2 separate regions of the Homo sapiens genome follow, and region 1 is linked to region 2. Evidence: fine-mapped expression QTL. A gene starts in region 2. The other region holds a variant in brackets. All regions are shown on one strand. Distances are from middle to middle. Region 1 overlaps TRUB1 (TruB pseudouridine synthase family member 1). Region 2 holds the start of ATRNL1 (attractin like 1).

Evidence for each region. PIP is the estimated chance that this variant, and not a neighbour inherited with it, causes the effect. A credible set is the group of variants that fine-mapping cannot tell apart.
Region 1: its variant is the best candidate, but not a certain one, in a credible set for the expression of ATRNL1 in sigmoid colon (GTEx, PIP 0.69).

Annotation. Positions count from the first base shown.
Region 1 is chr10:114,951,676-114,956,071 of GRCh38, forward strand. All of the region lies in intron 3 of TRUB1 (TruB pseudouridine synthase family member 1), which reads left to right. Among named protein-coding and RNA genes, the nearest start is that of TRUB1, 16 kb to the left of the region's middle. RefSeq lists a silencer at 1,592-1,641. The variant C/A (reference allele first, on the strand shown) is at 1,717.
Region 2 is chr10:115,090,897-115,095,292 of GRCh38, forward strand. It overlaps ATRNL1 (attractin like 1), which reads left to right and starts at 2,469. Exons shown (of 29, transcript NM_207303.4): 1 at 2,469-3,147. The coding sequence starts at 2,855. RefSeq lists silencers at 2,000-2,509, 2,540-2,669, 2,760-3,039.

The sequences.
Region 1 (4,396 bases), 140 kb before region 2:
TTTGGAGGCAGGAGAGGCTGGAAAGCTGTGAACTGCTGGTAGAAGGGGTCTCTTCCATCTCTCAAAGAGAGAGTAATATCTGTATCCTAATGAGTAATTAGGTGCTGGTTATAAGTGCTGGGACTAAGGGTCAATGAAAATGCACGTGGAAGGAAGCTTAGTATGCCAAGAGGTAGCGAAAAATTTCATTATGTTCCTGGAATAAACTTTGTTTTAAAACTCTTGCTCTAAATGTGATATAAATTGTTGATAAAATGATTTTTGTTTCTTTAAAAAAATCTGTTGTCAAAGACCATTTAAAAAACAATTTCCAGTTCATTGCAGACTGATTGATGACTTTTGTAAAATATAATTAAAATACGGCAATGTAAAATTGCTAAATAAGTTTCTACGCAATCTCATTTTCTGAACTTATTATAGATAACTGGCCTGTGGAAAACACTTGACGTAGTAGTGGTTTAAGTATTAAAATAAAAGCCCTGACCGAGCGTGGTGTCTCATGCCTGTAATCCTAATACTTTGGAAGGCCGAGGCGGGCAGATCACTTGAGGTCAGGATTTCGAGACCAGCCTGGCCAACATGGTGAAACCCATCTCTGTTAAAAATACCAAAAAAAGTATCCAGGCGTGGTGCTATACACCTTTAATACCAGCTACTCGGTAGACTGAGGCAGGAGAATCACTTGAACCCAGGAGGCGGAGGTTGCAGTGAGCCAAGATCACGCCATTGCACGCCAGCGTGGGTGACAGAGTGAGATGACTCCATCTCAATAAATAATAAGTAAGGTAGGTAGGTAGGTAGGTAGATAGGTAGATAGGTAGGTAGGTAGGTAGGTAGATAGATACATAGATACATAGATTGATTGATTGATTGATCGATTGATTTTAAAAAGCCTCGGAGAACATATTGCATGTGATGTCTCATTTTGGTTATCAACTGGCATAAAAATCTGTGCCATTCAATTGGAAGGAATCTTAGTGCCTCTGATAAATGAAAAGCTTCAGTGTGGCTTGCTCTGTAATCTTCAAAATATTGGTGTTGAAAAATTACAGAGTATAAAAATTGCATTAGAATGAAGGTGTTTGACAGTTTCTCAGTAAATTTTTATACTGTGCTTACTGACACATAGAGTTTAGAATCTGTTTCTGATACTGGTTTTTGCCAGTTGTTTAATATTTGTTTCTGAACTCCCAAAGATGAACAATGTTTACTTTAATATGGGATTATGGATGATTTTTTTTTCACATTATTTGGTATTTTCTAAAATCTATACAATAAACAAGTCACTTTTATGTTAATAATAAAAAAGATATATTTACGTTAAGGAATTTGTTTGGGTTTTTTTACCAAGATAAAATATGTTGAGTTCATTGAGATATTCGTTGTTCACCCCTCCTCCCCCAAACCACAAACACAGCACACTATATATTACTGAAAGATTTTACTTGTAAATTTCAGGCATATTTTCAGAAATATTATGACTGAAAATGTAAATACATCATTGACTCTGGTATAAATTTTGTAACAGCCAATTTGCTGTTCAGCTACGAAAGCTGAATGTCATACAGTGAAATCACTGATCCTCAAAATGACTGTAACATAAATAGAATACCACAGGCACGTCTTGTTACAGAAACCTAGTTCTTAGGTATTTCAAAAATAGGCATCGTTGTCTTGTTAGCTATTTATATTTCTTATCCTTTTAATTTTATGTAC[C/A]TGTTAAAAGAACTAAATCATTAAGAGTTTAATGTTGAAGATTATTTTTTAATAAAAAGTAGTTAAAAACTGTTAATAAATATTTTTTCTTTTTTTAAAAGCACTAGAAGGAATCTTAGAGATCATCTTATCTAGTGACTTTCAAAATTTTTTTGACTAAGACCCATAGTAAGAAACATATTTTATGTAATGACCATATAGATACATACATTTATGAAAAGGAAAAATTTTATCAAACAACTTTGTGTTAGTCTGTTTGTGTTGCTGTAAAGGAGTAGTCGAGGCTGGGTAATTTATAAAGAAAAGAGGTTCATTTGGCTCATGGTTCTGAAGTCTGTACAAGAAACAAGGTACTGGTATCTGCTTCTGGTGAGGGCCTCTGGAAGCTTACACTTGTGGCCATGTCGCATGGTGAGAGAGGGAGTGACAGAGAGAGAGGCGGAGGTGCCAGGCTCTTTTAAACAGCCAGATCTCGCGTGAACTCATTGCAGGGAGGGCACCAAGCAATTAATGCAGGATCCGCCCTCATAACCCAGACAATTCCCACCATGCCCCACCTCCAACACTGGGGATTATATTTCAACATGAGATTTGGAGGGGGCAGACATCCAAACTTTATCCAACTCTAACCCTATGTATGATGTATTCTTGATACTTTTCCTTCTATTTCATTAAAAAAAAAAATGTGGCTGCAGCCCCCTAACTTGGCCCAGATCTAATGTCCACTTTTTCTTCACTTCCTATTTTGACAGATGAATTTTTATTTGCATCACAGTGCAACTAGAAAAATTAGACTTCTGGTATGTGTAGGATGGAGTTACGTCAAGAGTAGAAATATTTAGTTCTAGGATGGCAAATATTCAGTGTTCTTGTTACAGCCATATTACAGAACAGCCTTCTCTCCCTAGCCAGTCGTAATTGGAGATATTGCTAATTGAACATGGCCTAACATTTCTTCTTGCTGAATCAAGAAACACCCTTAGAATCTTCTTCAACATGGTGCCACTTCATACAACTACTGTCACTTACTAGATGAAATTCTGGCTTTTAAGTAAAATCTTTAGGCCATCACATTATTTTGCTTCCATCTGTGAAGACTAGACACTAATCAGACCACCCAAATCATTTCTTGCATTTCCTCCCATTCAGATCAGGGTAAAAGTTAAGAAAAGAGCCACTGCTCTGTGTTCCTCATTGTCTTCCTCTCCTGCCTTGGAGTGAGCTTTGTTCTGCCAGTGATCATATTTCTCAAGTCTTTTTTTTTTTCCCTGTGCCTGATCATTTAGGATTATGTGTATAATGTGTGTGAAAAGCATGTGAACTTTTTGTACAGTGCCTTGTGTATGGAAATTGCTCATTAAATACTGTTATTACTATTCCCAAGTATTTTACTTATCCCCAAGTCTCTCTCTTGAGGTCCAGGCCTGTTGGAGCTTTCTAGCCACATGTTCTGTAGACACCTGAAATTAATTTTACTCAGGCAAGTTCTGTTGGAACTCTTGAATACAGTTAATTTCTTTTTTTTTTTTCATGGCTATCTGTGATTGCTGGTGATGTAGGCAAAATATTGCACTCATCAGAAAGAGAAAGCATGCCAGTTCTTTAAGGGAGAGACAGACTTTCCTTGGACATTAAAGCCAGAAAGAAGTTTCTGACAATAAGAGATATTAAATGACAGATAGATGGTGATTTTCAAAAATAGTTTTACAACAGATGTAGAAATGGAGCTACATAAAATACAGTTTAGGTAAAATTCTGAGAGGTTAGGCTGATGTGTTCCTTTGGCCTAAGTTGATCTAAGTATAAAACGTTGCTTACCTAGAGGAGGGCAAATAGCCCCTCTTATATCTTCCCTAAATTACACTTTCTTTGAGCCAGTCATTCAGCAAAAGCTGGATAGCAGATGTCGTACTTTGAAGGAACAGACAGAAGGAACAGAAGAAAACAGATGAGGTTTTGGAGTGCTGTCTTTATTAGTTTTCTATATTGTTGATCAAAGTTGGTTACTTTATAAATGCTTTAGAAACCAGATGGAAAGGTTATGAAAACCTGAATAATCTAACTAGCATGTCCAGATATAAAGGTACCTCCATATCTCTGTGCAGGTAAACCATAGTGGCACCTGCAGGCAAAGCCAGCATCTCCTCAGAAGGCAACTTTGTATCCCCCTCCAGTAGTTAAACAAGTGTCATCATTGGAGTGAATGAAGTTTCCCCTTCTTGGTGTGGTCAAAGGATAGTAACTTTCCCCAAGAACACAGTAACATTTTTAGGTTAACCAGTTATGAGAACTCTAAAGTGTGGCTTGAGTAATGCTCCTATGAAACTTAGCCAACTCTTGAAGATTTCAGCATTTCTAATCAGTTTTCTCCAGAGGCTAGTCCAGTTTGTACCTTTTCTATATACGCTATTAATTTTCATATATTTCATAAATACTGTATTGAAAATTTTAAAGGGCTTATACTTATGAACTATAAAAAAGGACTGTTCCTTCTTAATGAAGACATTCAAAGCCACATGTTTTTGGTTTGATAGGTTTTTTAAAAAGTGTTCTTTCTCATCCTCAGTAATATCCCTATTTTGTTTGTGAAGGTTTAAATCACAAGCTTTCAAAATCACACCTCAGTTGAGATCCAAGGAAATGATTGTGTGTATACTTTCTGTAGTAGAAACATTTTTCT
Region 2 (4,396 bases):
TCTTCAGTGTAATGTGAAGTACTGAGCTGATTATAGTGGTTATTCAATTAAAAGATATGTATTTTAAAATTATTATTATACTTTAAGTTCTGGGATACATGTGCAGAACGTGCAGGTTTATTACATAGGTATACACGTGCCACGGTGGTTTGCTGCACCCATCATCCCGTCATCTACATTAGGTATTTCTCCTAATGCTATCTCTCCCCTAGCCCCCCACCCCACAACAGGCCCTGGTGTGTGATGTTCCCCTCCCTCTGTCCATGTGTTCTCATTGTTCAACTCCCACTTATGAGTATATTTTTAATGGGCAAGCTCTGCTCAAATACAGGCTACAGTCAGTATGTGACTGAGCTGTGATCTCTCTCGTCAAAGGGACTACAGCGCACCCTTTGAATTACCTTCACACTCACTGACGGTTTTAAGAGTTTGGCCACTTTCCCCACGTCTGAAAGCGACTCTACCTTAGATGTGAGAAAGATGCGGCTGACTTTGGCTGGCAGATGGAGAAGAATGGAAAAGCAGCAGACAGTGTTCATGCATGGCTGACACTAGAAAGAATTCTTCTGGATTTCACAGTCATTGAAATGAAAAGATGTGATCCAGAACAGGATCTTCCTTTTAACTGGTGTCTGCAGTGTTCTCTCCTCTGCTTCTTCACTCATTTCAAGAAGTCTCTAAGGGGCAGCCTGATGTGGAAAAGATGTTAAGGGAAGAAGAGGGCATCCTAATTCTAGGTTTGATAAGGACATTTTTGATACTGGTAAAACCCTGAAATTATGGAAATTATGATTTGTTCTGTATGCCAACGAGAATCGTGGTTTTCCTTTTGCTCTTTTCCTTGCGAAGGAGCCAACTCCTTCTGGATCTTTGTTTTTATTTTTTCCTCCTTAAGTCACTGCTGAGGTATTTTTAAACCAAGCCAACACGTATATTTTATTCACCGAAGGAAGAACAAAGCATCTGCTAATAGAAGCAGTGAAAAAAGCACAGCAGTCAGAGGCCTCGTGTCTAAAGCTCAGTTCATTACTCCTAACCTGCCATTGGCCAATATTTCAACCTTTCTGAGTTGCTCTTTCTCATCTGCAAAATGGGGTTAATGGAGGATTTCATCTGCAAGTGGGGATAAGAGACATGAAAAGAACTGACGCGAAATAAACACGAGTTGAATCCTAACAATAATATTTTGACTATGTAGTTACAACAAACTTTTCTTTCTTCTTTTTTTTTTTTTCTGTGAGAAGTGCCTTTGGTGGATTTTGAATTCTTTTTCATACTGCCTGTTCTTTGGTGGGACTCCAGCAACATTGCTGTAACTCGAGGATATATGGCTGCAATGTGTGTTTGGCTTCCTTTCTCAAGGGGGTCAAATAAAAAGGCAACTGTTTAGAGAAGGCACCAAAGTACAAAACAAAAATCTCAGAATATGCCAGCCAATCTTGGAAAGTCATCTGAAGAAGAAAAAGTGCTGCTGAGGAAGGAAAACGGCCCTTTTGTGGGCATCACTTCTGCTCTTCTGAAAAAAAGCCCCGATGCTGCAATATTTTTCAAGGCAGAATATCGTCCCAGATGGAGGAGGGAGCACTGACAAGCAGAAAAGGAGAGACGTGCGGTTTCGAGGCAGCGTCTGTAAGGGGTGGAGAGCGCGGGGCTCGGAGCCTCGCAGTTCTTTGTTGGGGGCGCGGGCTTCGTTATTCCCGAGGCAGCAATGGCTCCCCCTCGGAGGTCCCTCCGCGGAGACCGCCTCGCGCCTCTCGCAGTCCCCAATCCCCGCCCCTCCCAGCCCTCGCTGACCCCACAACGTGGTCGGACTGCGGTGCCTTTAAGGCTTTTGCCTGCTGCACATGCTCAGCTCTTTGTGTGTTGTTGGAGTTTTTCTCTCTTAAGAGAAAAAGAAGAAATAGGCAGGAGGATGGGGCGGAGGAAGGGGGAAGCGCTAGGGAAAAAGCGTTGCACTTTTGCAGCTGCAGACGGCGGACGGGAAGGACTTCTTTTCTGCTGAAGCTGCGAAGCCTGTGTCGATCTCTCATTCGTGGGGCTCCCGGGGCGCGGGGTGCGGGTGGGGCCGGGGTGCCCGCACCGGCCGGGGGGAAGGGCACGCGGGCCACACCTGGGGGGCCTGTCTCCAGTCAGCGCGCGGGCCAGGCGGGGTGGGCGCGCGCGCGTGGGGGAGTCCCCGGTCCCTGTCAGGGGCGGGGCGAGACCAAGGCGCCGGGCCTGTGGGGAGGAGTGTAGGCGCGCGCGAGGGCGGGGGGCGGCCCCACGCATCGTGGGCTCCCGGCGCTGCCGCTGCGGCCGGCTCGAGGCACCGGAGACAGAATGGCTGCCGGGGCGCCCTTGACCGCCGGGCGGGCGAGGCGGGGCTGACCGCCGCCTCCTTGATCGCCCCCTTCCACGTTGGGCGCGCCCACTTCGGGGCGCCCGCTCGGCCCCCGCCCTCCTGGGCGCGCGGCGCTCGGAGCCGAGGCAGTTGGCGCGGGCCGCGGGCGAGGCGGGGCCGCGCGCGGGGTCCCCTCCTCCTGCCGGTCAGGTCCCCTCAGGAGCGCCGGGCGCAGTCTGCGCCTCCCGCTCCCCGCCTCCGGCCGGGTCCGGGACGCCGCGGCTGTGGGGTCGGCCCGCTAAGGACAAGGTCGGGAGACTGGGTGGCGATGCCCGAGTGCGACTGGAGGCAGCCGAGCGGAGGCGACGGCGGTTGGGATCTGTCCCTCCTGACCGGGGAGCGGGACTCGGACGGGCGCCGGTGAGGAGGAGGAGAAGCGGCGGCGGAGAGGTTTTCTGCGGCCGGAATTCCCTTCAACAGCATCCCTGTCGGCGCCCGCGAGCGCAGTCTCGCCGGGCAGGGGCGCCGGGGAAGATGGAGACTGGGGGCCGGGCCCGCACTGGTACCCCGCAGCCAGCGGCCCCGGGGGTGTGGAGGGCTCGGCCGGCGGGCGGCGGCGGCGGGGGCGCCTCCTCCTGGCTGCTGGACGGGAACAGCTGGCTGCTGTGCTATGGCTTCCTCTACCTGGCGCTCTACGCGCAGGTGTCCCAGTCCAAGCCGTGCGAGAGGACCGGCTCCTGCTTCTCGGGCCGCTGTGTCAACTCCACCTGCCTCTGCGACCCGGGCTGGGTGGGGGACCAGTGCCAGCACTGCCAGGGCAGGTTCAAGTAAGTGCCTTCGCCGGACCCCGAACCTCCAGCCCTGCCTCGCTCCCGTCGCGGCCTTCCCCGCCCCCCTCGCGGCCTCCCCCGCCCCCGTCGCTGCCTCTGATCCCCCGGCCGTGAGTGAACCTCAGCGCGCGGCGGGAGCGGGCGAGAGTGGGGCCCGCGCCGCGCCCCCTCCAGCCCCGGGGCGCCCCGGGAGAGCTCGGGCCCGCGCGGAGCCCTGACCAACGGGGAGCTAGGCATTTCTCGAGCGTTCCAGATGTCCGCAGCGACTTCTGATCCGCTGCTCAGCACGAACATTTTCACAATCAGTTATGATGCCCAGCACCATTTTCTTGGGATAATATTTAAAAATCAGAAATTGTCCAAGTTACTTATGAAATACATGCGCATTGTGAAAAATTCACAAAAGTGTAAAGGTTCAGTTATGATCTATGAGTGCCTCTCTCTTTCCCCATTCTCTTCTCTCTAGAGGTGACCCCTTCTAACATTTATTTAGTCATCATAGTGATGTTAATAAGTAGAGTTTATGATGGACTTGCTAAGTGCCAAACACTCTTCTAAGCGCTTTATGTCAATTTTCTCATTTATTCCCTACAACAACTCTGTGAGTTGCTAGAATTATTATGCTGGATTTACGGAGAGAAATCGAGGCGATACATTGAAGTAACTTGGCCAGGATTACACAGTAGTAAGGGCCGAGTTATGATTCCAAATCAGCTGGCACATTCTGGAGCCAGTACACACTCCAGAATGTGTACTTTTAACGAATTTGCTGTGTTGTATTTGCTAGGACAATCTTGAATTGAGAAATACAAAGGTGACTTTAGGTTAGATAGAAGGACGTTTTTATGTGGTGAGGATAATGGATTTTTTTCTGATCGGTTAATTCACTGTCAGCTTTTGTGCGGGAACATCGCTTTGGCTTGTTTGAAGCTCAAGGAGCCTAAGAAGTTTGCTTGCTAAGGTGAAGGTACTTTCTTCGTACTGGTTGGTGTTTATTACATTCTTGCCTGATATAAAAAGCAATGGGTCACAGTGTAGGGGAGTAGCAAAAGTCACTTAATATTGGGGCAGGCTTCTAACAACATGCAGGTAACAGTCATTAAGAAAGTCAGCTTCTTAGTCTTCTAGATACTTAATATGAAGTTTGCTGGCTGGTTTGTGGCTCTTGAATATTGTAGATTACTGATATTGTTAGGCTGATAGCCAAAATCTAGGTGAAATTTCTCTTGGGCTCTAAGGCAAAGGT